Linked DNA regions of Homo sapiens: all the other regions are linked to region 1. Evidence: fine-mapped expression QTL. A gene starts in region 1. Each other region holds a variant in brackets. All regions are shown on one strand. Distances are between the middles of the regions.

Region 1 (10,198 bases):
CAGGGATGTTGGATGGGTAATTCATTATTACTATCACCGCGCAGCTGGGAGTGTTCATTTGCTGGGTTTGAATACACAGTTGTAACATTCAGCCCTGTGCCCTTCAGACACAAAACCCTGGATTTGAGGGGGCCTGAGATTACATATACATTTTTGTTACAGCAATACATTGAGCTCCAATTGTCTCAAGCACTGATCAGGCACAGAGTAAAGAAATGGGGCGAGAACTAACACTGAGCGCCTGCTATGTGCCTTAGGGCTTTGCCTTAAGCTCTGCATACCCATGCACTGGTCCCCCACCAGCCCTCCAGACTTTGGCCATCCTCTTGTTACACATGGGGAAACTGAGGCTGGGTGGGTAGGAAGTGGAGCAAGGCCAGTTGAATGAAAGAGATCTGTCAACGGCCAGATCCCATTCTGGGAAAGGAGGTTCAACTCACCGTGCCTGCAGGGAGGAAGGGGCTGGCTTTGCCTGTCCAGCCCTATTCGGGGGGTCCCAAACCAAGCAACTTGGGGCTCTTGAACAAACCCACCCTGGTCTTTCTCCCTGAGCACTCGCTCAGGTCCCAAAAGAAATTCACAGTGAGTCTGGTGGCAGGTGGGTTTACATGCCTTCGAGTAAGCTGAGGGGGCTGGGCCTTCAGGACTGAACTAAAGACCCCTCGGGCCAAAAGAGAGGACCCTCTTCCTGGCCTTGGCCACAACTCTCCATTGCTCACTCCTTAGAGTCAAAGTCAGGGCCTCTGTCAAAAAGGAACATGCTGCCTGGGATAAAGTGGCGTATTAACCCACCACCTGTCGCTAGAACCACATTGTAAAGGAAGCCCAGGGCAGTGGTCCCCAAACCTGGGTGTGCGGAAGAATCGCCTGAGGTAATCTTAAAAACGCCAGTTCTCGAGCCCTGCTTCCACCCTGGAGCCTGTGTTTTCTTTCACCAGATCTGAATTTTGATTCAGATGTTCCTAAGACAACTGTTTCAGGAAATAATGATATAGTGGAAAGAACACCAGATTTAGAGAGCTGGGTTTAAGATTTCAGCTCCAAACCTGAGCTGCTGACCTCAGGCAAGTAAGCCTCAACTTTCTTCCTGTACAAGGCAGATGCTGATGTCTCCCTTCTAGGTGGCTGGGAGGATTAAAAGAGAAACCACTGAAAGCCCCAAGCATTGCACACACCAGTGCTCACTAAGCATGGCCCCAGTGAGGCTAACAAGCCAGCGAGGCTGTGGGCACAGAAGTAAGTTTTGACAGGAGGAGGAAAAGAGAGCAAAACAGGCCTAGATGATGAAGGGGTGTCCCAGCCTCAGCACAGCGGTCCTGCGGAGGAGGAGTAAAATTGGGGGATCCCAAGAGGGGGCCAGAGGCAGCAAAGCAGCCTAAAGCCAGAGCTTCCCCTGAATCTTCTCCTCACCTGCGTCAGCCTGCATCATGTGTTGGCTTCCAGCATAACATTTTTAATCCATTTTCACAGCGAGGATATTCAACAAATACACATGAAACCTTTATATCTGCGCATAAGTAAACATCACGATTCTGCATACACACGCAAAGAAAAAGATGGGAAAACCAGAAAGAAGAGGAGAGAGAAGAGAAAAGTGAGATGAGGGGTCAAACCCAGGCAAATAGTCATGTGCTTTCAAGTGTGCTGGGGCCACTAACATGAGGACAGTGTGTTCCATGACCTGGAGAGGCCCAAGGAGGCTGCTCGGGGGAAACCTCAGAGTGGCTGGGGAGGCGAGGCTCATCCAGGCTGAACATAGAGCAGGCACAAAGAATGCAGGGAAGAGACACAGGAGTGTGTGCAAGAAAGGCTGGGTGGGATACACTGCCTGGCAAAATTTAGATCAGAAGAGGGGAAATCTGAATTTCTGAGCTGGGGATGGGAGGTGTGGGGAGGGCAGATAAGACCATGATAGAGACTGGGTGAGTGGAGGGATGGCCTTCAAGCAGGAAGGCGTTGGGATGGCTCTTGGATCAATAAAGTAGACTGGGATTAGGAAACATTTTAAATGCCCTGATGAAAAGTAACCTGGATTCAACCGTGTCCATACAGTACTTTCCTATCTTTCAGTCTTTCCTCGAGCTCTTTCCTCTGCTTGGCCTGTCCTCCCTCCCCACCAGCCTTTCCCATCTCCTTGAACTCCTCCTTAGGCTTCAAAGCCCAGTGGTAACTGCCCTAGCTCCTCCCATGCAGAATCAATTTCTCCCTCATTCGCATCTCCTTGATGTTTTGCACATCCCCCTTGTATTGCGGTTATTTCTTTACTTCCCTTTCTCCCCTGGGTGGTTATTTATCATCTGCTAGCCTGTGGACTCCCTGAAGGCAATGATATTGTCTTGTTCATAGCGTAAGCTCCAGCACATAGTAACAGTCCCTGGCACATAGTAACAGTCCCTGGCACATAGCAGACGCTCAGAAATATCTGTTGGAGATAAATTAAATAGAAGTGAATACTGGGGAGCCATTGTGATTTCTTGAGAGAAATGATGTGGTGAAATCAGAATTTCAGAAATATTAATCTATCAGCATGAAAGAAGATGGATTAAAATGAAGAAAGCAACTCGTGGCTGGGAGTCAAGAGGGGAGATTATTACTGTAATTTGGACATGGTTGAAGGTGGGGGCAGTGGGAATGGAGACAGGTAAATAATTCCTCAGATATCACAAAAGAATGTGGAAGAGATTTTGCGATGAATGAGCTATAAATGTGGGGGACAGAATGGGAGTGTTGGGAACATTTAAACATTGAGACTCCCAGCAATTAGGATAAAAGTGGTACCATGGAGAGAAATGTGGGGGATGGAGAAGACGGCAATACACAGCCTCTGTGTAGGATAACTGATTGCAATCTCCACAAGTTTTTCGAGGCAAAAACAAAAACAAACTCCAAGTCAAAAATCTCCCCACCCCTGATCTTCCTCCCAAACTCTGGGCTGTATTTTTCTTTCGCTAACAGCCAGTAAGAAATATTTCTTTATGGCATAGGAGACTAAAAAGAAGGTAATGCCAAGCTGGTGCCCCGCCCAGTGCTGGGCACAGAGGAGATCACATGAGTTCCACTGGCCAGCCTCCCCACAAGAAACCAACCCAGTTGCTTATTCAGAAGGGGCTCCAGTATCCTGATCACCCAAACTCATTTCCCAGGCCCAGACCTCTGGGAAATCCCTGCTCCAGCCCTGCAGAGATTTATAGGAAAGTCCCAGGACGCCCATCTGCTTGCTTCCTCACATTAATTTCAGGGCTAGGATTTTGTTTTCTAAAGGAATTCAACTATGATGCCAACAAAAATCTATAGGAATTGAAGAGTTCCGTATTTTAAGTCACATTTTTAAAATGTTTGCTTCTTTGTATATTGAGACCCAGTAAGACCCTAGTAAGCCCAGTTACTCCATCACCTCCAACAATATTAATCAAGTAGAAGACACGCGGATTTTAAAAGCTGTGTGATCCTTGAAAAATCTTCAGACTGTCAGGGGTCCTGGGTGCCTCCAACTGTGAAAGGAGGGTTGGACAAGGCGATTCCTTAGATCTCTCTCGGGTATCTATTTCTCTAATTCCAAATTCCAACAGGCATCCAATGATTGCTACCCACGTCCAAGCTTTAGACTCATAGCCCGAAAAGGGCGAAGCGCAGCGTGGTAGAGATCGCAAAGGAGACAGGAAGAGAAGCAAGCATGCACTTTTAGTAAGACGGCAAAGGAGGCTGGGAGGTACGGTGCTGGGTGCGGACTGCTTAAAAAACTTACTAGACCACAAATTCCAGATACTTAGGTGGGCCCGAGAACGCCCTAAAATCCCCTTCCCAAGTGAGGGCTGATGTTATTTCAAATAAAAAGAAAACTTAACTTCCAGATCTGTAGAGCTCCAAGGTGAGCTCGCTGTGCAAAAGCTACTTCTGTAAGTGCGCCAAGGGGCCGCAGGTACTTAGGCTGCACTTGAGGAAGTGTCCAGAGTTGGCGGAAACAACCCATCCACTCGGGCTCCAGGCGCTCGCTGGGTTGCAGCAACTAAACTGAGACAGACAGACACACAGATCCGAGGCCCCAGGCCAGGACTCAAGGAGCGCTGACCGAGACTTGCCCGGCTCTCGGGCCCCAGGCGGGAGGGAGGCGAGGCTGAGGTGGGGGGCGCACGGGCTGGGTGTGCACTCGCCGGTCCCCTCCGACCCGACCCGGGGAGCACGGGGCCCCGACCCGGGGACGACTGAGGTGGATTGTCCCTAGAGTTTAAGACTGTCCCTAGAGTCGAGGGTGGAGGGATGAGCGCCGGCGCCAGCACAGAGCAAGACTCCCAGCAAGGAAGAGAACCAGAGAAGGAGGCGCAGCCGTCCGCACGGACCAGGCGCGCGCTGGCTCCCCGAGCCCGGAGCGGCGCAGCCCGCGGCGCCCCGGACACACCCACTGGGTAGCCCGCGCCAGCCCGCCCCGCCGGCCAGAGAGCGGGAGCCGGAGCCTGGGCAGCGGAAGCCGGGTCGGGGCCGCGCGGGCGGCGCGCAGGGGACGCGGGGCGCGCGGCTCTGCTCACCTGGCGGTCCGCGTCCCGGAGCGACCGGCGGCCGCCTCGCCTCGCCTCGCCCCCGCGTGGTTCCCGGCGCCGGGCAGCCCCGAGCGCCGCCGCATGGACGGCCGCCACCGCCGCCCAGCCGCCCCGCGCCCGCCCTGCACGGGCTCCCGCTGTGCCCCGATTCCGCGTCGGGCTGCGCGGGCGGCCAGCGGTTCAGGCGCGCGCGGAGAGCTCTGGCTCAGAGTTTGCGATCCGAGAGCGGGATCCGCGCTCCCTCGGTCCTTCCTCCCTCCCCTCTTGCGGCCTCCCGCTGTCATCTGGAGCCGCTCCTGCCGCCCCCTGGCGGCGACCGCGGGAAGGGCCGGCCCCCATCCGCACCCCTGACCCCGGAGGTCAACAACGGGATGGTCCCTGGGTCCCAGGGGAAGAGACATCACCCAGTAGGAGGGAGTACGGTCTAGACAGAGGCCACGAGGGCGGGAGGGGGCGAGAGTGGAGAGTGGCCCAGCTGGCCAGGGTCGTCTAAGTGAGAGGAAAAGGGAGAGGGCGGTTGAGACCAGGCCCTGAATTCCGCGTTCATCTTATCCTGAGGTCTGTGGGGACCTGTTGAAGGACTGGGGCAGGGGACGGACGCGGGCATCCTTCCATTTGGAACAGCCATTCCGGCAGCATCAGGATGGGGCGGAGGCAAAGCGGGGAGTGGGCGAGGCAAGTGGTGCTGTAAACCTGTGCGAGAAGGGGGCGGTGACTCTAAGGGCAGGAAGGAGCCCTGGTCACACACACACTCCCACGCAAGGTAGGACGCGCTGGGCTCCTTCTGAGGCCAAGGGGAAAGGACAAGAGCCCTCCAAATTCCAACGGGGGTTAGACAGCATGGGGAGGAGACACACACACCCTGACGGCCAGAGCCGTTCGGGATTCTTTCTTGTCTTATTCAGAGTAATATTTTGTTGGGGAAAAAAAAGCCTGCTGCAAAAAAATAATAATTCTTCTCATTAGTAATGATAAAAATCAAACTTTGATCCCTTCATTTTACGAATTGGGAAATTATTGCCCCCAAAAGGGCATGACCAAAGTGACGCGTTTAGTTAATGGAGGGAAAATTGCTAGGGCCCCGTTTCTTGAGTCCTAATTCAGAGCCAAATTCTTTACATTCGAGCCAAGGTGTTCAGAGCTGGGAAGGCAGGAAATAGAGTGACTGTGAGGAACTGTCTCTTCTTTCCCCAGAGCAGGGAGGGGGTGACAAATATTTGAAGAGGCTGTCCAGATACAGGCGTTTCCCTAAATTTCAGTCAGCCTGTTTGTTTATCGCTGCCTCTAAAGCTTGCCTGCAGGGGTTGTTTTGAAAGTGCAGGTATACCGAGAGGACAATGAAGGAGGTGGCAGAATGCAAGCTCCCTGCCCCAGAGCCAGGCAGCACCAGGGCTGGGTGCAGAGCGCTTCGTGGGAGCAGAAGGGAGCTCCCAGGGAAGATTGTCCTCCAGAAAAAAAAAAAAATTAACAAAAGGGAAAGAGGCTACTCAAGAGATTAGGCCAAAGAAAGAAACACCATTTTGAGCACCGACTACTGGCCCGGAGCCTGGCAGAGCCAGTTCTGATTGATTCAAGAGCTGGTTCCAATGGGATGAAATAATTCCACACTTGATCAAACAGATTTTGATGGGAGGCACCTGGTGTAAATGGGATTAGATTAATTCTGAGTGTCACGAGTCTCATGGGTCCAAATTAAGTCGATCTAACAGCTCTAGTAAATACTGGCCAGTTTAAACCATTTAGAACTGATTTAAAAAAAAAAACCTGCGCAACTTTAGAATGTACTTAATGTCACTGAATTATACACTTAAAAATGGTTAAAATGGAAATTTTTATGTTATGTACATTTTACCATAATTTTAAAAAAGCAAAACTAATAAGATTTGTTCAAACAAGATTGATTTATTCATTCATTCGAGACAGGTATTCAGTGCCGAGTGTGGCCTTGGTGCTAGGATTCAAAGAGGAAAGGAAGAAAACTTTCCATTCTAAAAGAAACTCCACGTGAGGCGAAGAAGATGAAATATAGTCAGAAAACCATACCAGTAGGTGGTAGGTAAATGCAGAAGTATTTAAGAGCTCATACAGGAGTACCTGCCTCAGGACAGGGAATCTGAGATGCTCTGCAGAGCTGGATCTTAAAGAACGGAGTGAGTTCATCACATAATGTCTGGGGCGAACAGGGCTCAGGAGCAAAGGATGTGGTTTTGTTTGTTATTTTTTAATTTTGAAATAATTTTAGACAAGTTTCACAAATAGTACAAAGAATCCCCTTATATCCCCCACCCTCTTCCTCTAATGTTAACATCCGACATAACCAAAGTATGATTATTAGTGAGCAAACTTGATTCGACAGACCTAGGCTGGCTCCTTAGAAGTGATTCCAGTCCATTTTCAACCTTGGTCAAATTGTTTTGACCATATTTTGCTTATATGTCACAAGAAAGTCTCTTTCTTTAAAGTCAAGATAATACTTGTTTTATTTGTTTATTTATTTTGAGAGAGTGTCTTGCTCTGTCACCCAGGCTGGGGTGCAGTGGCATGATTGCAGCTCACTGCAGGCTCCACCTCCTGGGCTCAAGCAATCCTCTCACTGCGGCCTCCCAGGTAGCTGAGACTACAGGCGTGCGCCACCACATTTGACTAATTTTTTTTTCATTTTTTATTTTTAGTAGAAAGGAGGTATTGCTGTGTTGCCCAGGCTGGTCTCAAACTCCTGAGCTCAAGTGATCCTCCGTTCTTGGCCTCCCAAAGTGCTGAGATTACAGGCGTGAGCCACAGAGACCAGCCTATACTCATTTTAAACAAAGAGATATTTACATTATGTGTAAGCATCAGTGAATATTAAGTATGCTAAGACAGCAAGTTTTAATCTTTCAGTCCTGTTATATTTCTGCTTTTATCCAAATGTGTCTGTCACGTATGAATCAGAAGAGCAGAATGTGGTCCTTGCATATAAAATAGCTTACTGACCCTCACCGAAAGAGAGAGCCAAGAATATGTGCTTCAGATCACAGTCAAAGGCTAGCCTGTGCTTACCTAGGCTGGGGGCCTGCCTGGCATGTCAGTGTCAGCTATACACAGCATCTTGGAGGGTGGGTCACCCCTTTGCATATCTGATGTGGTGAGCTACTCACTACCTCATAAAATAGCCACATTGTTCTTAGAGGCTCTTTGTTAGAAATTCCCTTTTAATTTTGACTTGAAACCTTTTGCCCTGTAATTATTATCCACTGGCCCTAGAGGCAGCTCCTAAAGGGACAGACAAGAAACATAACTCTTCTGTCATGTGTCAGTTCTGTCTATGTAAGACAGCTCTAGCTTACACCTGTTGTCCTATTATAATTATTAATTAATTATTAATAGTACCCCCCTTCATTCTCTTGTCCTAGTTAAGTTGATAAATGATGCATACGACATCCTATAGAAGACTGTCACCACCCCACCTCACTGATCAGCCCTCTGCCTACAGCCACACCCACAGAACATTCAGCCATTTCTCCTGTGGTTCCCAGCCTGCAGCACAGCGTCTGCACGTGGTGAGGGCTCCCAAATCTCTGAGGAATGAATGGCTCACTGCTGAGAGCAACCTTCTGGGAGTTCAGGGCATGTGGAACTGGAATAAGAGCAACGTGTGAACAGATTACAGGAAGGCAATGCAGGACAGCTGGACCCTTTGGGGGGAAACTTATGGGGAACACAGTTTTCTTACTTATAAGCACTGAGATTGCCTGAGAGGGGAGAGATGATGCAGAGTGTCCCAAATGTATTTGACGTGGAATCCTTTTACCAGCGAAACATCTCTTGGGCCTAGAGTTCTGAAAATTGCACTTTGAAAAACACTGCTCTCAGCTCTTACAAACCTCGTGTTTTCATCCTAACTGTGCTTCAGAGAATTGTGTCCCAGCAGGAAAGGAAACCCCCGTATAATTCCCTACGTTGCTAGCATTTGGAAGTGGGATGAAAATGGACCTACATTCAAACCCCTAATTTCAAGCTCTGAAGGAGGTACCAGGATCCATCACGATGCTTGTAAAATTGTTCCTTTCATTTTCCTGGTTGTAAACTTATGCAGACTGTAAAGTCAAGGCAAGCCTGTGCCCAGCAAATAATAAGAAAATAAGGGAGGCATGGTAAACAAAACAAAACACTTTGAGAGTTGGTCAACTTGCTGTTATTTTGAGCTGTTTCTAAAAATCTCAGGGTAGATTCCCTCCCCTGCTTGCCTCCTTAACCCAGTCCTTTTTCTTCCTCCTCCAGGAACTCTGGAATGCTGACCTACAGTCTGAGTTCCTGTGCCCTTGCCTGGGGCTGACTCTCTACTTGACCTGTAACCCACAACTGGGCAAGAGAAAATTCTGCAGCCACAGCTCTGAGGACATGAGCAAAATGGTTTCCAGACGGAATGTCAAGGATTCCCATGAAGTGTCAGGGAGTCTTCAGGCCACACTTCAGGTTATCTCCTTCTCTTTCCCTTTTCTGCTTCACACTTGCTCTCATCCTCTTTCTCACCCCACATCTGGTCAGAGGAGATAGGAAGGTTCTTGTTACCTGGTACAAGACAACTTTTGGAATCCCAGATATTCAGATTATTTCCCCTTTTCCTCTTTGCAAATGATAATACTCACAGCCAAGAGGCATCACCCGGATCCGAGGCTGCTTCTCCTTAGGACATGCAGACAGAAGGAGAAGGCGGGGCTGGCAGCCTCCAGTCCACAGCCTCCCTTTCTTCTTCCGGCGATGATTAACTAGGCCTAGACAATGGAGATCTACGGCATACGCCCAGGGCCTCCTCTTCTCAAGCATGGCTGATCAGTCACTTTCCCGTCTATCCTTCATTTATTGAAGCCAACTATGAACGACTAAAGGAAGGATGAGAAAAGTCACCCAAAGTCAAAGGGGACAGCGTGGGAGACTGTTCTAGACAGAAGGAAACACCTTTGCAAAGACCCTGAGGAAGGCAGGGGACTCTCCAGGAGCAGAAGGGCTGTGTGGCTTCAGAGTCCACAAAAGAGAGCAGATACAGGACACTGGCTAGAGCAGGCCCTGGAGCCCGCTGCTGTCCTGGAGGCCTTGGGGAGGCCCAGTGTTCCCAGGGTGGAAGAAGTAGGGGACAGCTTGACGTAGTGGCTGTTGATCAGCTGATATGGAAGTATGTCATTTTATTAACAATTGAGAAAGGAGTGCTGTGCAATTCCATTCAATGCCAGTGATGCTTATGGCCGTTTTTATGAGTTCTGTCATTTTCAAATGAGCAAGAGGAAGCCTCTAAGGGGGTTTAAGCAGGGACTGACGTAATCAGATCTGTGTTTTTCCAAAGGGAGAGGGAGAAAAAGAACATTTCTTATTTTTCAAAAAAGGTAATGCAAAAGCATCATTCCACAATTCTCTTGTAATGAAAAAAATAAATGCAAACTTAAGCAAATCCATCATTCTGAAAGAATATCCTGCGTCTGCCTTTTCCTTCCTGGGAGACTCTCATAATGAGGTCCTGTCCTTCACCCATTGCTCACACTGCCGCCTGGTACCCCTTGTGACCAGGACTGCAAATCTCCAAGACAACTGGAGCAGGGTGGGAGAGCTCAGCCAGGAAGCAGCTTCTCTGTTTGAGGCTAATCAGCTTACATTGTGCTTGAAATTGCTGTCACCTTGGCCTTGTTGGC
Region 2 (10,198 bases), 150 kb before region 1:
ATTCATCAAACTCATTCTCTGTTCAGTTTTGTTCCCTTGCTGGCAAGGAGCTGTGATCCTTTGGAGGAAAAGAGGCCTCTGGTTTTTGGAATTTTCAGCCTTTTTGCACTGATTTTTCCTCATCTTTGTGGGTTTATCTACCTTTGTTCTTTGATGTTGGTGACCTTCATATGTGGTTTTTGCGTGGACGTCCTTTTTGTTGATGTTGATGCTATTCCTTTCTGTTTGTTGGTTTTCCTTCTAACAGTCAGGCCCCTCTGCTGCAGGTCTGCTGGAGTTTGTTGGAGGTCCACTCCAGATCCTGTTTGCCTAGGTATCACCAGCAGAGGCTGAAGAACAGCAAAGATTGCTTCCTGTTCCTTCCTCTGGAAGCTTTGTCCCAGAGGGACCCCCACTAGATGCCAGCCGGCGCTCTCCTGTATGAGGTGTCTGTCAACCCCTGCTGAGAGGTGTCTCCCAGTCAGAAGGCACAGGGGTCAGGGACCCACTTGAGGAGGCAGTCTGTCCCTTACCAGAGCTTGAGCGCTGTGATGGGAGATCCGCTGCTCTCTTCAGAGCCAGCAGGCAGGAATGTTTAAGTCTGCTGAAGCTGCGCTCACATCCGCCCCTTCCCCCAGGCGGTCTGTCCCAGGGAGATGGGGATTTTGTCTGTAAGCCCCTGAATGGGGCTGTTACCTTTCCTTCAGAGATGCCCTGCCCAGTGAGGAGGAATCTAGAGAGGCAGTCTGGTTACAGTGACTTTCCCGAGCTGCGGTGGGCTCTGCCGAGTTTGAACTTCCTGGCGGCTTTGTTTACATTGTGAGGGGAAAACTAACTACTCAAGCCTCAGTAATGGCAGATGCCCCTCCCCCCCCACAAAGCTCAAGCGTCTAAGGTCGACTTCAGACTGCTGTGCGCGCAGCGAGAATTTCAAGCCAGTGGATCTTAGCTTCCTGGGCTCCGTGGGGGTGGGACCTGCTGAGCTAGACCACTTGGCTCCCTGGCTTCAGCCCCCTTTCCAGGGGAGTGAACAGTTTTGTCTCACTGGCATTCCAGGCGCCACTGGGGTACGAAAAAAAAACTCCTGCAGCTAGCTTGGTGTCTGCCCAAATGACCACCCAGTTTTGTGCTTGAAACCCAGGGCCCTGGTGGTGTAGGCACCCGAGGGAATCTCCTAGTCTGCAGGTTGCAAAGACCACGGCAAAAGCGTAGTATCTGGGCTAGAGTGCACCATTCCTCAAGGCACAGTCTCTCACGGCTTCCCTTGACTCGGGGAGGGAGTTCCCCAACCCCTTGTGCTTCCTGGGTGATGCAGAGCCCCACCCTGCTTCAGCTCAGCCTCCGTGGGCTGTACCTACTGTCTAACCAGTCCCAGTGTGATAAGCTGGGTACCTCAGTTGGAAATGCAGAAATCACCTGCCTTCTGCATTGATCTTGCTGGGAGCTGCAGACCGGAGCCGTTTCTACTTGACCATCTTGCCAGCCACCACTGTTAGTGTTCCACTAGGAACACTGGTGTCCTTTCCCTGCCTCAGTGAAAGCATGAGTTGAGATACAGCTTCTATCGGCCTGGGTCCCCAGGTAATATTAGTGTTCCTCTTATAAGAACACTAATCCTATCAGATCAGGGCCCTGCCCTTAAGACCTCATTTAATCTTAATTAGTTCCTTAGAGTCCCCATCTTCAAATACGCTGGGGGTTAGGGCTCTAACTTATGAATTTTAGACAGACATAAACATTTAGTCCATAGCATTCATTGTGCTGTGTGTATTAGCAGAACTTTATAAACCACAATAAGCTTTATTAACATAAGAAATGATACATGGGATGATAATGCCTTGGTGCCTCTCCTATACCTGGATCACCTTCTCAGTGTCCTTTAATGGCTGAGACTCTTTCCCCTGCTTCCTTAATGTAACATACTCCAAAGCTCATTTCCTGGTCCTTGTAAAATCCATTTTGTTATTCTACATTTTCTTGAAGGTCTTATCCACTAATCTCACCAAGGTTGATGACTGCAAGTATGGGTCTACAACCCTAAGATATCTCCCTAAACTTCAGAACCTTGCATCCCTAACCTCCTGTTGGGTCCCACCATTCATTCAGACTCAACATATACAAAACCAAAATCATCATTTTGTTTTCACAAAGAGGTTGCCCTCTGGGCTTTGTCCTCAATGATATGCTCATCCCCAAAGCAAACATGGCCTAGTCTTGCCAGGTATCCCCTGGCATGTAAAAGAGAGCTCTGAGAATGGATCTTGTGGGGAGCATTCCAGATCCACTCCCAGTGAAATAGAAACCGCCTCTCATTTCTCTAAGGTCTGCCCCTTCCACTCTGAACATTCACAGGATTATGGATTATCTATGCACAGGGGTGGGCTGCGGGAATGAGAGTGCCTATGAATAAAGCCGCTTCAGTAAAACACGAACACTCTAATTCCAGGTCCACCAGCACTTAGTCACAAGCCTCCCTCCCTCATATCTTACAGTTCTGATAATATTGTCTATGTTTTTATCTGACAGCGCCCCCTGCCCCATCATGCCCCACCATGGCGTCTGTGTTGGGGCAGACTGCTGGATTGGTGGAGGAGTCAGAAGCACGCAAGGGGTAGATCTTGACTGAAGTGGCTCAGGGCTCTGTGGATATCAGACTGTGTGGTGGCACCTTTAATATTCCCTGGAGCAACATCTACTATTCTTGCAAACAACCTAATAAAAGTCACCTGGACTTAACGAGGAAGGCATTCAGGGAATTTCACTGGAGCTTCCTGCCTGCTAGTCACTAGGGCCAGCCACAGATATTCCATTTCTCCTCCTTTGAGCACATAGTGGGAGGGTACCTCCCTTCCCCCTTGGAAGTTAGGTGTGATTTGTGACTTGCTTTGGCCAATGAGATGTGAGCAGAAACAATGTGGATCAATTCTAATTGAAGCTTTAAGAACCTGAGTCTGTATGGCTGGCTATCATTAAGTCAAAAATAACAAGATGCTGGCAAGGTTGTGGAGAAAAAGGAACACTTATACACTGTTGGTGGGAGTGTAAATTAGTTCACCCATTGTGGAAGACACTGTGGCAATTCCTCAAAGACTTAGAGACAGAAATACCATTCAGCCCAGCAATCCCATTTCTGGGTACATACCCAAAGGAATATAAATCATTCTATTATAAAGACACATGCATGCATTATGAACATATGCATGTATGTTCTTTCATTGGCACTATTCACAATAGTAAAGACATGGAATCAACCTAAATGCCCATCAATGATAAACTTGATAAAGAAAATGTCGTATATATATATATATACCATGGAATACTATGCAGCCATAAAAAAGAATGAGATTATGTCCTTTGCAGGGACACGGATGGAGCTGGAGGCCATTATCCCCAGCAAACTAATTCAGGAACAGAAAACCAAATACTGCATATTCTCACTTATAAGTGGGAGCTAAATGAAGAGAACACATGGACACAGACAGGGGAACAACACACACTGGAGCCTATCAGAGGGCAGAGACTGGGAGGAGGGAGAAGGTCAGGAAAAATAACTAATGGATTACTAAGCTGAATAACTGGGTGATGAAATAATCTGTATAACAACCCCCCATGACACGTTTGCCTATGTAATAAACCTGTACATCCTGCACATGTACCGCTGAACTTAAAATAAAAGTTAGAAAAAAAAAAACAAAAACAAAGAATTTGAGCCTAGGTCACTTGTTCCCTTTCCCTGCCTCAGTGAAATCATGAGTTGAGATACAGCTTCTACCAGCCTGGGTCCCCAGGTAAGCAAAATACACCCACCCTTACACGTGGAAGGTGAACAGCAGGCAAGCTTTTGTCATGTTAAGTCATTTGGATCTGGGGGTTATTTGTTACTGTAACATAAGCCAGCCACTGCTGACAGATACAATCACTGTTCATGTCACCAGTTGGCGACCTTCACTTTCTGACTCAGCCTCCCCTCTGGCTTTTCAGTTGCCACTCTTTAGTTCAGCTCTCAGGGACACACAGTGCACTCAAGCTACCCAAACATAAAGCTGCCCCCTAGCAGTTTTAAGGATTAAAACTGATATCTGATGCCCTATAGCCTATAGCAACCCAGCAAAACTCCAGTCTCATGCTGCAGCCCCATTACCCTTGGCATGAAAACAGGTAGAATTTGCTCCAATCTCAGCACCTAAACAAGTGGCTTCCTATGAAACTGCCCATGCTCGGTGTAATGGACATATATATTTATTGTCCAAGACAGAGAGTGAAAGGGGACTGGGACGACAGGCATAAACTATCACTGTCCTGGGTGAACTGGGATGCACGGGCACCCTAATTCCACTTTTGCCATCTTTACAGTAATAGGTCCCAGGCTATGAGAAAAATTCCTGGAGGCATTATCTAAGGATAGGTCACCAAATCCAGGAAATGCAATTAAAGGCTTAAGAAGAACCATCTGGTAAAATTAATGTGTTTATCAGAGAGTATACTCCGCTTTTACTATTCTATGTGGCATTGCACTGAATGAGCGCAGCTGTTTCCCTAAGTAGGCACATGTGAATAGCAGTAGACATCCAAACAAAACCAAGAGCCCGATGCAAAATCCAGCCGTAAAGCCCTGCAGAAGCATTAGCAGTGTCTTCCTCCCGCCGGTCAGCCTGGGAGCCATTTAAGAGGAGGAAGGATAAAATCAAGAAAACAATCTTAGCAGCAAAAAGAATTATTTAAACAAAGCCAAAGTAAACTCAACTTCAGTGACCATAGGCTTCCTCTCTCCTTCTAGGCATGTGAAAAATATCAATGTCAGTGACCATTTTAAAAGACTGCATTATTTTCTAGTAACACATGGTAAAGGATAGCTGATTAATCCACATTAGGATGCTAATTAGTTGATTCAACATCTCAGTGGCTTCCAGTAAAGAAGTATGCACTGATTTTGGTAGAAGAATGTTTTCCTGTCTGTCTCAATCCCCACTTCCCTATCTCCTCTTCATGCGATGTGGGTCCCCTACCATAGGGTTGGTCACATGACCTGAGCTAACCCAAGTACCCCATCCCCCAAACTAGGTTCCAGGGATGGGAACAGGATCCAAACAAGACCATGGTATAGTTTGTCTGGGATTGGAACAGTCACTAGGTATATTAGTTTCCTAGGACTGATGTAATATATCACACAAACTGGTTGGCGTCCTGTTGAACACAAACAAGAGAAATGTATTCTCTCACAGTTCTGGAGGCCAGAAATCCAAAATCAATGTGTTGGTAGGGTCACTCTCCCTCCAAAGTCTCTGGAGGAAGGATCCTTCCACGCATTTTCCTGGTTTCTGGAAGTTGCTGGCAATCCTTGGCGTTCCTAGGCTCATAGCTGCATCACTTTAGTCTCTGCCTCTGCCTTCAC[A/G]TGGGCTGTCTTCCCCCTGTCTGTGTCTTCCCATGGTGCTCTCTGTGTGGGTCCCCAGTCACAATGGATTAGGGCCTATTCTACTCTACTGTGACCTCATCTAAACTTATATCTTAATTAGATCTGCAAAGACCCTCTTTCCAAAGAAGGTTACATCACAGGTACCAGGGGTAGGCTGGAGTGCAATGGTGCCATCTCGGCTCACCGCAACCTCTGCCTCCTGGGTTCAAGTGATTCTCCTGCCTCAGCCTCCTGCGTAGCTGGGATTACAGGCATGTGCCACCAAACCCAGGTAATTTTTTCTATTTTCAGTAGAGATGGGGTTTCACCACGTTGGTCAGGCTGGTCTCGAACTCCCGACCTCAGGTGATCAACCTGCCTCAGCCTCCCAAAGTGCTGGGATTACAGGCGTGAGCCACCGCACCTGGCCTAGGGGTACCTTTAATAAATCTTTTTGGGGGTGCAATTCAGCCCTCAAGACCAGGTGAGAGAGTCCCTCCCAGTATGATTGCAAGCTCAAACCCATGGTAAGCCTTCTCGCCTGCCCGAGACAGAAGTAAACAGAACCTAGAGATGGAGAAAGATGAGAAAGGCAGGGTCCTAATGTTACTGATTCCCTGGAATGCAGCCACATTTGAATCCCAGGCCACCTCTTGCATTTCCCAGTAACATGACCAACAAAATACCTTTCTGATCAAAATGTATTTAGTTTGGGTTTCTGTCACTTACAACCAAGAGTTCCAATTAATATATCCACCAATGAATAATGCTCTGTAATGTGAATTCAAGCAGTTTCCCATAATCTGGGTGGGAGAGAGAGGATGGAAATATTTGTGAAAAAGATTGGTCATGGGCTGATAACTAATGGAATTAAGTGGGTACATAGGAGCTTATCACACTATTATACTATTCTCCCTACTTTTACCTATGTTTGAAATTTTCCAAAAAATCAGTTAAATCAAATGTTCAAAAAATAAGTTCTTCCAGGTCTTAAAGTCTAGCACAAATCAGAGGGGAAAAAAATAACAGAAAAAGTAGACCCATACATAAGCCAGACAACAGCAGGCATTCACATGTAATACATGAAAACATTAGCAAAGTTTTCTTTGTGGTTTGCATAGGGCTATCAATATTAGACCTGCATCTACCAGACCTCAAGGTCTTAGACAACAACAGCTGGCTGATGGCCACCTCAGACCACGCAGAAAAGGTCTGGCAAGGCAGCTTCTGCTCCTGGGGAAATTACAGAACGCACACTGCTCAGTGTAGTGTGGAATTCATCTTTCCCCCCAGGTAATCACAATAAAGCAGCTATTATCCACAGCCAGCCATAAAGCAAGGGTGCAGCTCAGACAAAAGACAGGGTCACTTCTTCTCTAAATGTTCACTGGAAAGCATTGTTGTTCTGACACAAGAATGTATTTCAGGATTTATCAAATACCCATGATTCTGTCCCTCAATGTAGGCTGAGTCATCCCCTCTTAGATGAGAGGTTCTCTACCCTAGCTACCCATAAGAATCACCTGGGATCTTTAAGAAATCCTGATGTTCAGACTGCATCCCAGACCAATTAAATCACAATCGCTGGGGAGGGGTCTAGGCATCAGTGTCTCTAGGAGGCTCCTCAGTGATTCTGAAGAGCAACCAGGGCTGAGAACCACTGTGCTGGACAGACCTACATCTGTGAGCCAGTTGAGGCAGTTGCTCACTTTGGATACATGCCTCACTTCTCTAAGGCATCTGCTACTATCAGCTGGAGCAAACTCACCTCTGGATCTACTCTAGCGAGTAGATCTCAATCAATCCAGAACCTTGTTCCTTCTTCTTTGTATTAGTTTCCTAGAGCTGCATGACAAAATACCATAACCTTGATGACTTCAAACAAGAGAAATTTATTCTCACAGTTCTAGAGGCTGGCAGTCCAAAATCAAGGTGTTGGCAGGACCACGCCCACTTTGAAGGCTCTAGGCAAGGATGCTTCCTTGTCTCTGCCTAGCTCTTGGTGGCTGCCAGCAGTCCTTGTTGTTACCTTGTAGAAGCATCACTCCAATCTCTGTCTTCATCATCACTTGGCATACTCCCTGTATGTCTGTGTCCTTTCTCCTCTTCTTTTTTTTTGTTTTTTGTTTTTTTTTGAGACGGAGTTGCACTCTTGTTGTCCAGGCTGCAGTGCAATGGCGTGATCTCAGCTCACCACAACCTCCGCTTCCCAGGTTCAAGCGATTCTCCTGCCTCAGCCTCCCAAGTAGCTGGGATTACAGGCATGCACCACCACGCCAGGCTGATTTTCTATTTTTTAGCAGAGACGGGGTTCTCCATGTTGGTCAGGCTGGTCTTGAACTCCCGACCTCAGGTGATCCACCTGCCTTGGCCTCCCAACTTTCTCCTCTTATCAGAACACAAGTCATTCCAGATTAAGAGCCCACTCTACTCCAATATGAACTCAACATAACTGATTACATCTGCAATGACTCTATTTCCAAATAAGGTCACATTCTAAGGTTCCAGGAAGAATACCAATTTGGGTGGTGGGTGGGGGCAGTATTTAACCCAGTGCACTCTTCCTCACCCATATTAAGTGAGTATTACACTTTGTCTTCACCAGAATCCATGTAAGACATAGCTAATTGGGAGTACAATGCCTTCAAGACGTTTTATTTTGAAATCATTTTAGATTTACAGGAAAGTTACAAAGATAGTACAAAAGTTCCTGTATACCCTTTCTTTACCCAGCTTCGCATAATGTTAACATGTTACAAAACCATTTACAGGCTGGGTGCGGTGGCTCACGTCTGTAATCCCAGTACTTTGGGAGGCTGAGGCGGGTGGATCACTTGAGATCAGGAGTTCGAGGTCAGCCTGGCCATCATGGCAAAACCCTGCCTCTACTAAAAATACAAAAATTAGCCAGGCGTAGTGTTGCACACCTGTAATCCCAGCTACTCGGGAGGCTAAGGCAGGAGAATCGCTTGAACCTGGGAGGCAGAGGTTGCAGTGAGCTGAGATCACGCCACCGCACTCCAGCCTGGGCAATAGTGCAAGACTCCACCTCAAAAACAAAACAAAAACAAAAAACAAACAATTTATAAAAACTAAGACATTAACGCTGGTACAATACTATTAACTAAACTATACAATTTATGCCTATTTCACTAGGTTTTCCAACAATGCCCTTTTTCTGTTTCAGGATCCAAATCAGGATACCACCTTAAATTTAACATAATGCCCTTAAAAATGAAAAAGGTCAGAACCAAGCTCTATCCACAGAATCAAATCAAAATTTCACTTTGGCATCCTTCTTTTGCTCACCCTTCACCCTGTTCCCCACCCGTTGTATGTGCACTCAGCTAGCTCTATGTTTCCTCTGTACATCCTTCCTGCTTGAATTTGATAGTCTCAATTTTTCAGTCAAGTTAGTTCTTAACAATTTTGAGGTCATGGGACCACTCTGAGAATCTAATAGAAGCTATGGAGTCTCTGAGAACACTGCACAGATAAAAACAATTTAGCATCCAATTTCAGAGCAGTCAGATACTAATCCACTTCCCTCCTCCCCAAGGGCCTCTAAGTATAGAACCACCTTGCACAGTTTGGCTTCCCCAGGCATTGATTCTGCAATAAAATCATCACAACTCACTATCAATCCCTCTTCCAAGGCAATTTCTCCAGATCCTGCACATTGTGCAGTGCTCCATACTCTGGGTCTTGGCCAACCTTAGCTGTCCAGCCACTGCCTCGGGCTGAAGCTGAGAAGGGCTGGCTGGGCAGAGCTCTTCCACTGGGCCCTGAAGGCAGCTGGACTCCCTCTCCAGCCAACTTGGCTGTGAGCATAGAACCCCCACAAATTCTGCTTGACCCAACACCTCTTCTGAGCCCACTTTCTCCAGGGGTGGGTAGAAATATCTCAGAATGTTAAAACTTCTCAGTCCGCAAGCCATGTTATCATCTGGATTTCAACAAAGAAAAGTGACTCCAGCATGCAGAGTGGGATCAACTTGCTCTACCAACTCTGGATCTTCTGTCATCTGGAAATGACGGGGATCTTGTACTCACGGGCAATGCCTGCCTACTATTATCTTTGGAATCAGCATGTGAGGCCCCCTACAGGTGAGAACCATACAACTGTACAACCCCACATGTTCTCTTAAGCTCCCATACTACCCCTTGTAGCAGGAACCAAGGAAAGGGAAACTCCATCTGCACTCACGGCTCACAACTTTATGTTTGAACCTCTTCTCCAACTGATTCCTTGAACCCTGTTCTGTCCCCCTCACCCTGCCATCCTTGGATGTTGCTTGTTTCCATCAGTGCCTCATCCATCTGACTCATGCCGAAGATGGTCCAGGCGTCACCTGAGCTATGCTACCTTTGGTAAAGACCCATGCAGGCTTCTCTTTGCCCTGGAGTCACACTTTCTCCCCTATTGACACCCCAGCCAGGATCACACCAATACCTCCAACATCAATCAGAAGTCAACAAGAATGGAAAACAGACTAAAGTAACTTCTATGGACAGGGCTGGGTCTATTCTTACCTTCTGCAAATGGTTCCCACTCATAAAACCGGCCCATGAATGGCTTGTTGTTGTAGGATGCACACTGTACCTCCCGGATACTTCTACTGCTTTCTGGACATACCTAATAAAGCAGATATTAAATATGCAATTAGTGTCCATACTTTTCATAGCTCCAGGATACATTTCCAAACCCTGGATACCTTTCCAACTTTATTTATTTTTTATTTTTATTCTTTATTTATTTATTTTTTTTTTTTTGAGATGGAGTCTCACCCTTGTCGCCCAGGCTGGAGTGCAGTGGCCCAATCTCGG
Region 3 (10,198 bases), 200 kb before region 1:
AAATAAATACAAAAGAAAATGAAACCATGTTATTAAATCCTAGCTAGACACAATTGAAGACTAGCTCAATTTGAGAACTGTTAAAGACATAACTAGCATAACATCTTCCTTGATGTTGAAAAAAAAAGATGTCTGGAGTTGAAAGAGAACTGAAAAAGGAATGACTTTCTCATTCTAGGATTCAGTGTTATTTGATGCGGTTTCTTGGTTCCACTAAAATCAAGGGACAAGCAGTGCGAGTCCCACATTTTTGAAAAAGCTTTTGTGAGGAAAGGTATGGATGGAGCAAAAAGTTTGATCACGTTCCAGGAACAGGCTTTCTTGGGCTACTTGGATCTTTTTTTCTATGTGTTATCTGTCTCTTTACCAATCTAACGTGGGCTATGTTGTATGAAAAGGCCAAAAATGTGAGCTGACCTATTTTAAATCTTAGTAACATCTGGGACCTTTAGGAGAAGGAAAGTTTGTGATCCAAAGGAGAGTTCAGCTTGCCAGAAGCTAGTATCCTCATCAAAAAAGGAAAATGGACCTGCTCGTGAGAAGGGCAGTTGCTGTAATATGGAGATGTTCAGAAGATTGCAAATAACTTTGAGGTTGTTTTAGTCTGGGTTAACTTGCAGTCTTTAGTACATTCCAAATATACAAAGATGTTTTATGAGCTTACAACTTATATAAAATGTAAGGCAATATGGAATTGTACCATTAAACTGAGAAATGGTTATCATGAGTGACTGCAGAATGATCCTCACATAGTTGAACCTGATGGGGGAAGATGACTCATCCAAAGGCCAACTTCGGGAACTAGAAGTTCACCTAGGGGTAACCCAGTGGACTCTGGGTTCAGCAAACGTTAATTTCTGAGTTAGCATTTCCCCAAGCATATTTTCAAGAATGTTAGTGCCAAGAGATCTAACAACAACCACCAATTTAAAAATGGTTCTATGACCCTTTTGCTGGAGTCTAGTTACCATACCGTCCTTTTAAAGATTTATAATTCATGTCAGTACAGTAAGAGCTCTGAGAACTCCTGTAATAAAGAATTTGCTTACCTTTGCTTAATCACGTGTTTGTAACACTTGTTGGCCAAATAAACGGTCATTAATAGCCTAGCAAAACTCACATTCAGGGCCATCCTAACTGACTTTTAACAGGGCAGCACCACCAACAGGGCAATTCAGAATCAGAACAAAGAAAAACACATGCTATAAAGACACATGCACACGTATGTTTATTGCAGCACTATTCACAATAGCAAAGACTTGGAACTAACCCAAATGTCCATCAATGATAGACTGGATTAAGAAAATGTGGCACATATACACCATGGAATACTATGCAGCCATAAAAAAGGATGAATTCATGTCCTTTGTAGCAACATGGATGAAGCTGGAAACCATCATTCTGAGCAAACTATCACAAGGACAGAAAACTGAACACCGCATGTTCTCACTGACAGGTGGGAATTGAACAGTGAGAACACTTCGACACAGGGCAGGGAACATCACTCACTGGGACCTGTTGTGGGGTGGGGGGAAGGGGGAGGGGGGAGGGATAGCATTAGGAGAAATACCTAATGTAAATGACGAGTTAATGGGTACAGCACACCAACATGGCACATGTATACATATGTAACAAACCTGCACGTTGTGCACATGTACCCTAGAACTTAAAGTATAATAATAATAATAGACTTTAGAATCCTTGATGTCAACATTGTGGTGTTCCCCATTTCCCTGATTAGACATACCAGGAGTGTCCTAAGGTGCTCAGTCCTGATTATGGTGTGCTTGAAACAGGCCTGAAACAAATGTCATCAAATGTGATCACTTAAGAGAAGTATTTTGCAAGCACCAATGTCCAGCACAAGTAATTGTTACTTCCAGGAGATCTGGTTCTAAATCAAGTTCTGCCATTAATCAACATTATGACCTAAGGCATGATCATCCTCATTTTGAAACTGAGGAAACTGAAACTCTGAGAAATAAAACAAATTATCCAAAGCTAAACCCCAAGCTAGGAGAATCGTACTGCACCCAGGGCCAGGGCTCCCGCTCTCAGCTCAGTGTTCTCTCCACTGCTGTACTCTGCCTCCCCAGCCCTCCTGCCTCTCAGGTTCACACTTGGCATCATCTGACTCTTCTTCAGGTAACCTGGGTGTCTGTGCTCCTTCTGTTCTAAGTCTTAGATTCATTGCTCCTGCTTCCCCTAGGATCTTTATTCCAGTCATTTCCAACCCAGAATGAAATGATCCAGTGTGGTTCTGGCCCTTCTGATTGCTGATGGGCTGAGTCCCAGCCTCAGCTACAGGCCCCTGGTTTGTGTTGGTCTGAATCACCTTAACAACTCTTGAACCATCAATGACTGTGGCCAAACCCTGAGTGCCTCCAAGAGGCTTTAGCTTTTCCCATTAGGATACTTATTCCAGGAGCCTTTATGCTGGGCTAGGAACTTAATGAGTAAAAGACAAATAGTGGTTCCTTCCCACTAAGATTCCATCTCTCAGTGTGGTAAAGGAACAAATGTCCCAGGTGTAGAAAACACCAAACTAACTCCACTTCAAACCATGCTCCATCCTATGCCTAGTGCCATTCCCTGGCTCTCTGTCTGTCTCCACCCCTGACATCCTCGGCCTTCATTCTGGGGGCCATCCATGCTGCCTCTCTCCTAGTCTGTGGTGACTTTGGAGGCTCAGTTGTCTTGAATCTCTGTCTTCCCAAATTCACTGCCTTATCTCTGGCTCATGGCATGCCTCCTGGGAAGGAAGTGGGACTGTTCTTCATAAACTTCCCTCAAAGGCGGACCAAGCAGATTAGGAACAAGTAACTCCATGCTCCCTGAATCCTTCCTCCCTTCCCTACTGCCCCCCAAAAGCCACTGGTAGGTGGGTGTTGGGCAAGAAGCACCATCCTCCTGGGCATATAAATTCTAAGCTCCACCACCTCCTCACCTAATAAAACAGCAGTGAGGATCTCAAGGGACACTGATACTTACTCAGCCCCGACCAAATACCAGGCATTTGCTAATCAACTGCGTTAGGTAGTGTATCTCATTTAATGCCATGAGAATTCTATGAAGGTAGGTATTATGAATTTCTCCATGTTTACAGATGTGGAAAATAAACCTGGAAGAGGCTGAGTAATTTGTCAAATGTCAATACTAAGTGATAGATCCAGGATTTGAAGCCAGACCATTCCCAGTCCTCAACTATCCCACTGTCCCCCTACACAGGCAGCCTCTTCCTTGGAATCATGTGAAAAAACGAACTTCCCAAAGGGTACATTTTGCCATCTGATATGGTTTGGCTCTCTGTCCCCACCCAAATCTTACCTTCAATTGTAATAACTTCCATATATCATGGGAGGGACCTAGTGAAAGTTACCTGAATCATGGGGGTGTGTTTTTCCCCTGCTGTTCTCATGATAGTGAATAAGTCTCATGAGATTTGATGGTTTTATAAAAGGGGAGTTCCCCTGCACATGCTCTCTTGCCTGCCACCATGTAAGACATGCCTCTGCTCCTCCATCACCTTCTGCCATTACTGTGAAGCCTCCATAGCCATGTGGAACAGTGAATCCATTAAACCTCTTTTTCTTTACAAATTACCAGCCTTGGGTATGTCTTTATTAGCAGGGTGAGAATGGACTAATACACCATCTTCAAAAACATTCTACCCTGTGTACACAGAAATGGGTTCACAGAAGACGACAACCTTTTTCCTTTTATGGCTACTCCTCACTTCTAATGCTCTCCATCACAAATATGTTTCAGAGGTTAAGGGAGTGGAGGCTTAGTCACTTGTATGTTGACTATTTTAAACACCAATATCCAGCTCTGAAAATTCTCCCTTAGCAGTTTATTCAGACTATTATTATACAAAGCAAACACTTAGGCAATCTAATTTGTCTAAACATTTATATCCCACCCAATCTTTTTAAAACTTCAGGCTCTGCCAACCACTTTCTAAG[C/G]AACCTTGAAAGGCAGTTCCCATGGCTCATTTTGTGTCACATGAAAATATAAATGTCAGCATTGACAATGGTTTATTAGGTCCCACTGATAACTACAAAGTATAATACTTTGGTATTTTCCCAACATGGGCTCAGTCCTCAGATTTCGGCCCTAAGATCCATTACATTTGTGTTCTCAGAACTCCACTGAGATGCTTGGAACATAAATCTTCCAGCCAGACCCTGCTGCTTGTTGGGGGCCCAGCCTTTCCCAGGTCCAGGGAGCCCCACTCTGGTCAGCTGCTGGAACTGAGGAAGCTTGCCCCAGGTTCAGTTGTATCTAGGCCTTCAGCCACTAAGCCAGGCCTGAAAGCATGATGGGTACCCCTCCCTAGCAGCAATGGGCCTAAGGCCTAGGTTGGTGTGTAGTATATTTAAGGAGCCAAATGACACCTAGAACTCTGTAGAGTGACAATTTTGTATCACTCACCCTAAACAAAGGTAGACTTGTGCTTGGCCTACCAATTCCACAAAAGTGGGCCAGTCACCATCATGCCTTGTGGATAACTTCAAGATTGTAAAATAGGTGACTGAAGATGTCCCACCAGTATCGTCTTAATGTAACCCCTTGGTTGGAGCAGGGGGGTTAAGGTTTGTCAATGTCTACCTGTTTTGAAAAGATGGGTTTAGGTTTAGATGTACTTAATTTGAAGTCAAGCTGAGTTATATAAAGGAGGGGCTGTTTAGCAGAAGTTGGAGATGTGAGAATGAAGACCAGAAGAGAGGACAGGAATGGCAACAGACATAAATGACTGTTTCAGCTGAATCAAGTGGTGTGTAACTTCAGTCATAGCCAAGAGCCTGTTTTGCAAGCAGATTTCCATACAGGCTAACAGGGATAACTTTGAAGTTATCCCCAACTCCTTACTCTGCTCATACCCAGTGAACCCAAAAGTCTTACTAAGATTTCCTCTGTAATTTCTATTTTACCTCTCATTCACCTTGACTTCTAATTTGAAAGTCATCCTACATTCACTTTTGAGGATGAGGCTATATATATAGTCATTTGTTATTAATCAGTAGATTCTACTACTAAGAATATAGAAGGACAATTTTTTTTGTGTTGGTGAAATACAATCTGATATATTTTTATTCCTTGTGCTCCTATTTCCCCAAATCTCTCCACCTCCTGAAACTGAAGCATCTACATCCTCCTTCACAGCAAGGACAGATACAACTTTGAACAAGGGAGTCATTCCTAATCCTTGAAGTTTAAAATAGTGTTTTCTAAATCCCTGGTCTAGAGATTTATCTGCAAACAAAGCCTCCCCGCCGCCACCTCAGTAACAGTAATCAGGCTTTGTTCAAAAGAAAATAAAAATATATTTGTTGGTTTCAAGGAGGCGGAGCCTGGAGGACTGACCACAGAGGACACAGCTGACCTCCTATCCTGGGTGCTTTCCTTCCCATTTGGAATTCTGGGAGAAGACCACCCGCTGTGTGCCCTACATTAACAAGAGGTGGCCATGGTGGAGTAGAGAAGACGGAGTGTCATGCAGGCTTTGAAATATCTCCCTGGTTTCCCACAGCCTAGAGAGAGGTGAACCAGTTCATGCAAGGCTCAGTGTCATAATAAAAGTGTGAAGGGGGTCTGTGGACAATTAAAAGTCCAGGTTTTGGGCAAGAAGGATACAGACTGGCTGAAAGCCAAGGCAGGGATGGTCACCAGTTGCACAGTTAGAGCCAGCCCAGAGCACAGGTGAATGCAGGTATATCAGCCAGAGATGAGGAGAGATGAAGGCAGGCAGCCCAGGCCATGCTGGGAGGACAAAGGGCACCTCTAGGATGCCAACAAGGACCCAGAGGGCAGAGAGTGTTCTAATAGTCCTCCCTGTTACCACTGCCATCAACATATTCCTGATTGCAGAGGTCATCCTGGGGGAGTGGGGGCAGGAGGCAGAGAACCCCAGGTGGAAAATAGCCCTGGAGCTTGAATTAACTATGAGCCTGAATCTTTAGAAAAATTATCCCCAGAAAACTGTTTTAAACTAGATAAGAGAGTGAAAGTATAAGAATACTTGACAGTGTAAGTTTATATTCTACTGTCTTTGAAAATAAGACATACTAAGTTACATTTGTTTAAAATAGAAATATTTTTAAAGTAATGGTTCTCTTTGAGTCTGTTGCAGAAATTTAAAACCTGCTACAAGAGGTGTATTTAGCATCCAAAATATCTAACCTGCACTACAGCACACTGAACCAAGGTGTGGCAATACTTGGATCACAACTTTGTGATACAAATAATAAGATTATGTTGTAGGCATGGTTTCTCTGAGGCTGAAAGCACAAGTACTTTTCTCTTTTAAAAGAATAAAAATGGCCAGGCACAGTGGGTGGCTCATGCCTGTAATCCCAGCCCTTTGGGAGGCCGAGACAGATGGACCATCAGAGGTCAGGAGTTCAAGACCAGCCTGGCCAACATGGTGAAACCCCATCTCCACTAAATATACAATAATTAGCTGCGCGTGGTAGTGTGCACCTGTAATCCCAGCTACCTGGGAGGCTGAGGCAGGAGAATCGCTTGGACCCAGGAGTCAGAGGTTGCAGTGAGCTGAGACCAGCCACTACACTCCAGCCTGGGTGACAGAGTGAGACTCCGCCGCCAATAATTAAAAAAAAGAATAAAAATATAATATTTTCTTATAGTAACTTATCAAAATTAATATTACCAGGCTAAGTTTTGAGATAAGTTCCTTCAGCCTAAATCAAACAAAAGAGAAAAAAAAATCAAGATATAATTCAACCTCTTTCTCAGTAAACTGTAACTATTAAACCTTTAAAAAAGGCTATAATCATATGGCTAAAATGATCTTTTCCAACTCACTGAGAAACACTTCTTAGGATAAACATTCTCAAACCACTGAGAAAAGCCGCAGGACTTTCAGCACATTTGCTTTCAAAGCCCCTCTGGACAGAAGAATTCCTCCAATAAAAGCCTTCCTATGCCTCATCATCCGTATCAGAGCATTGGAACTAATTAACTGAAAAGATGGCTTTAATCTGCTTTTGTTAGTAGGAGCCCATGCTGTGTTTTTTTCTAACTACCTAAGCCCTCATTCTAACAGGAACAATTGATGCCAGTAATGATACCAGCAATGGCATGAAAGCTACGGAGAGCCCCCAGTCGGTACAAACCTGCGGAGATGGAGGGAGACCGCGAGACACAGCTAGGAGGTCCGCTGCTTCTGGGGAGGGGTAAGTATGAAAAAATCAAAAAGTAAAAAATGACATGCTTCTCCTAAGAAACACTTTTACGAAAAGAGTCTCTCCTTCCCTCAAAGCATTATTTTTAAGATTTTGAAATTGTCTATATATTGAAACTAATTTTACATAGGTAAACGTGTGCCATGGTGGTTTGCTGCACCTATCAACCCATCACCTAGGTATTAAGCCCAGCATGCATTAGCTGTGTGTCCTAATGCTCTCCCCCGACCCTCCCTCAGCAAGCTCCAGTGTGTGTTATTCCCCCAAAATAAAAATATCAAAAAATAAAATACAAAAGTACCAGAGCTCCTTGAAGAAATGGCTGATTTGATAACTGGGGCAGGGAATGTCCAACATGAACCTGGAGCATCTTGTAGTGCCAGAGAGTAAGGAAATACTGAACACATGCACACACACACATATGTGAGCACATGCATGTACACACACAGAATGACGGGGTTGTGCCAAAGGGATACCAGGGGCCAACTAAATTCAGTGACTAAGGCTTGAATAACTTGAGCAATAAATAAATAAAGTAGAAGTGAACTGTAGCCCAAAGTATAAAATAAATATCCATGGGTCCATACTGATATCAATAAATAAATGATACTGATATAAATAAACACATAGGAAAAAAACCTTAATTTTATCATACATCTACTCATTCATTCCAATGAACACTCATTAAGTGCCGTTATATGCCAGGCACTGTTCTAGCGAGTGAAGACGTGGCAGTGAACAAGACAGAGGAAGTCCCTGCTCTCGCAGAGCTTTCATTCTAGGGCAATAAGTAAACCAACTCCAAAAGTTTCAGATACTTGAGTGGTGAGGTATGACAGTGAAGGTCTCTTGCAGGGAGGGACAATCAGAAGAGAGGCCTGAATAATGAGGAGGAAGCCATAGGAAGATCTGGGGGTCAGAACATTCCCAGAAGCACAAAGAGCAAGTGCAAAGGTCCTGTGGGGTGGTGGGGAAGTGGGGAGTGGGAGCCCGAGTCGTGCTAGAGTGGAGTGAGAAAAGGCAGAGGAAGGTATGAGGCCAGAGGTAACTGATCATGTGTGGCTTGGCAGGTTATATGATCATGTGTGGCTTGGCAGGTTAGAGGAGTTTTCTAGGGCTGCCGTAATGAAATATCACAGAGTGGGTGGCTTAAATAATAGAAATTTATTTTCTCAGTTCTGGAGGCTGGAAGTCCAAGATCAAGGTGCCTGCAGGACTCGTTTCCTCCGAGGCCTCTCTCCTCAGCTCACAGATGTGCATATGCAGCCCTGGTGTCTCTGTATGTCCTAATCTCCTCTTCTTAAAAGCACAATAGTCAGATTAGGTTAAGACCCACCCTGGCAGCCTCATTTTAACTCAATTACCCTCCCCCCACTCCCCACTCCACCCCCTGCCTCGAGACAGAGTCTTGCTCTGTCACCCAGACTGGAGTGCAGTGGTACGATCTCAGCTTACTGCAACCTCTGCCTCCCGGTTTCCAGCGATTCTCCTGCCTCAGCCTCCCTAGTAGCTGGGATTACAGACGGCCTCAATTACCTCTTTAAAGGTCTTATCTCCAAATACAGTTACAATCTGAGGTACTGGAAGCTAGGACTCAACATGAATTTGAGGGGAGCACTATACAGTCCAGAACAGAGGGCAGGGAAACAAAGAGAACTCTGGATTTTTCCAAAGCACAACAGGAAGGCCACGGAGGGTCTGCAGTAGGACAGTGTCACAAAAGATAACTGCCTTCAGTGCTGTGTGGAGCACGGGCTATGGGGAGGGGTTGGCAGGAGGGAAAGCCAGAGGCCAGGTATGAGGGTGGCTGCAGCTGCCCAGCTGGAGACAATGGGGTACGCACTAGGGTGACAGCATGGAGGTGGAAAGAGGAGGACAGATATAGGTCATGGGAAGAAAAGAAGACAGGACCTGCTAACAGACTGAAGAGGAGTGACGAGAGAAAGGCCGCTCTTCAGGATGACTCCCAAGCATTTGGCTTGAGCAATGGGTAGATGGTGGTGCCATTTACCCAGGTGAAAACAGATTTTATTATATGATACACAAGGATAAAAGGGAAACATGATATCAACATATAATGCTAGGTTTGTCATCTGTAAGTCTAGAAAGAGGACATGTGGAAGCAGAAGGCAAGGATCAGTGCACAGTTAGAAAGTGAAGCAGCAACTGCACCATGAAACCCCGGGATCAGACAAAGAGGGGCAGGGAGCACAGCACTCTTCTAATTAGTTCAAAAAATGCCTTGGAAGAGGCTGGATTCTAAAAGCTGTTCAAATGGTGCACCCATGCCAGAGAATGTCGGATGTCTTCCAAAACCCATTATCTTCCAAAACAATAGACTTTTTAGCTGAGCTCATGGCTATCCCCTTCTAAGATGACATTTCTAGGCCTTCCTTGAAGCTAGGTGTTGCCACTGGGGTGCACTTCTGGCCAATGCAATATAAGTAGAGGTGGCCTATGACAACTCCCTGGAAATCTATGTTAACAAACAGCAGGTCTATGTCCTTTGCTCATTGTCCTCCCTTTTTATTCTCTATCCTGCCTCTTGAAATTGAAATACGATGGTTAGAACTTTGACGGCCTCTTGGAATGTTAAAATTAGGACCAAACCCAAGGGATAGAAGTTAAGAAATTGGAAGGCTCCAGGCCCTGAGGACTGTGTGGAGCACAGCCACTTTTAATCCACTTCTGTCATGTTTAAGTCACTTTATTTTGGGTCTCTGCTACTTAACACTGAACTAAATCTGAGCGGATACAACAGGCTAGGGAATAACTGGCACGTTGTGGGGGAGATGTTGGGGCTCAGTAAACAACACCCCAAAACGAAGGCCTCAGAAGTAAAAGGTTTTCTTTGACATTCTCCTGCCCCCCTGTCTCTCAGTCCCATTCTCCACCAAGGCTAGACAGAGAAAGTGAATCCCTCTTCTCCCAGGTGGGTCATAGAAACCAGAACCCCTTTTCCCCAAAGCCAACCATAAAACCTAAAAATA

Direction of the effects. Positions count from the first base shown, and alleles are read on the strand shown. Sizes are in standard deviations (SD) of each study's normalised expression. Not every link is listed here.
For the expression in gastroesophageal junction of the gene that starts at base 4,751 in region 1, G is the low allele of the variant in region 3 and C is the other (small effect, 0.27 SD a copy in GTEx).

Evidence for each region. PIP is the estimated chance that this variant, and not a neighbour inherited with it, causes the effect.
Region 2: its variant is the best candidate, but not a certain one, in a credible set for the expression of THSD4 in testis (GTEx, PIP 0.54).
Region 3: its variant is the best candidate, but not a certain one, in a credible set for the expression of THSD4 in gastroesophageal junction (GTEx, PIP 0.52).

The regions. Positions count from the first base shown.
Region 1 is chr15:71,110,024-71,120,221 of GRCh38, reverse strand. THSD4 (thrombospondin type 1 domain containing 4) reads right to left here and starts at 4,751. Exons shown (of 18, transcript NM_024817.3): 1 at 4,524-4,751. It overlaps CT62 (cancer/testis associated 62), which reads left to right and starts at 4,718. Exons shown (of 4, transcript NR_168260.1): 1 at 4,718-5,298; 2 at 6,459-6,591; 3 at 7,928-8,074; 4 at 8,796-9,978. RefSeq lists an enhancer at 1-141 and silencers at 4,358-4,447, 4,598-4,737, 4,768-4,827, 4,674-4,851, 4,888-4,937.
Region 2 is chr15:71,256,422-71,266,619 of GRCh38, reverse strand. THSD4 (thrombospondin type 1 domain containing 4) reads right to left here. Exons shown (of 18, transcript NM_024817.3): 6 at 9,905-10,007. It overlaps LOC105370884 (a long non-coding RNA gene), which reads left to right and starts at 3,610. Exons shown (of 3, transcript XR_001751791.2): 1 at 3,610-3,767; 2 at 8,559-8,614; 3 at 9,298-9,383. The variant A/G (reference allele first, on the strand shown) is at 5,372.
Region 3 is chr15:71,310,735-71,320,932 of GRCh38, reverse strand. All of the region lies in intron 6 of THSD4 (thrombospondin type 1 domain containing 4), which reads right to left. Among named protein-coding and RNA genes, the nearest start is that of THSD4-AS1, 130 kb to the right of the region's middle. The variant C/G (reference allele first, on the strand shown) is at 3,966.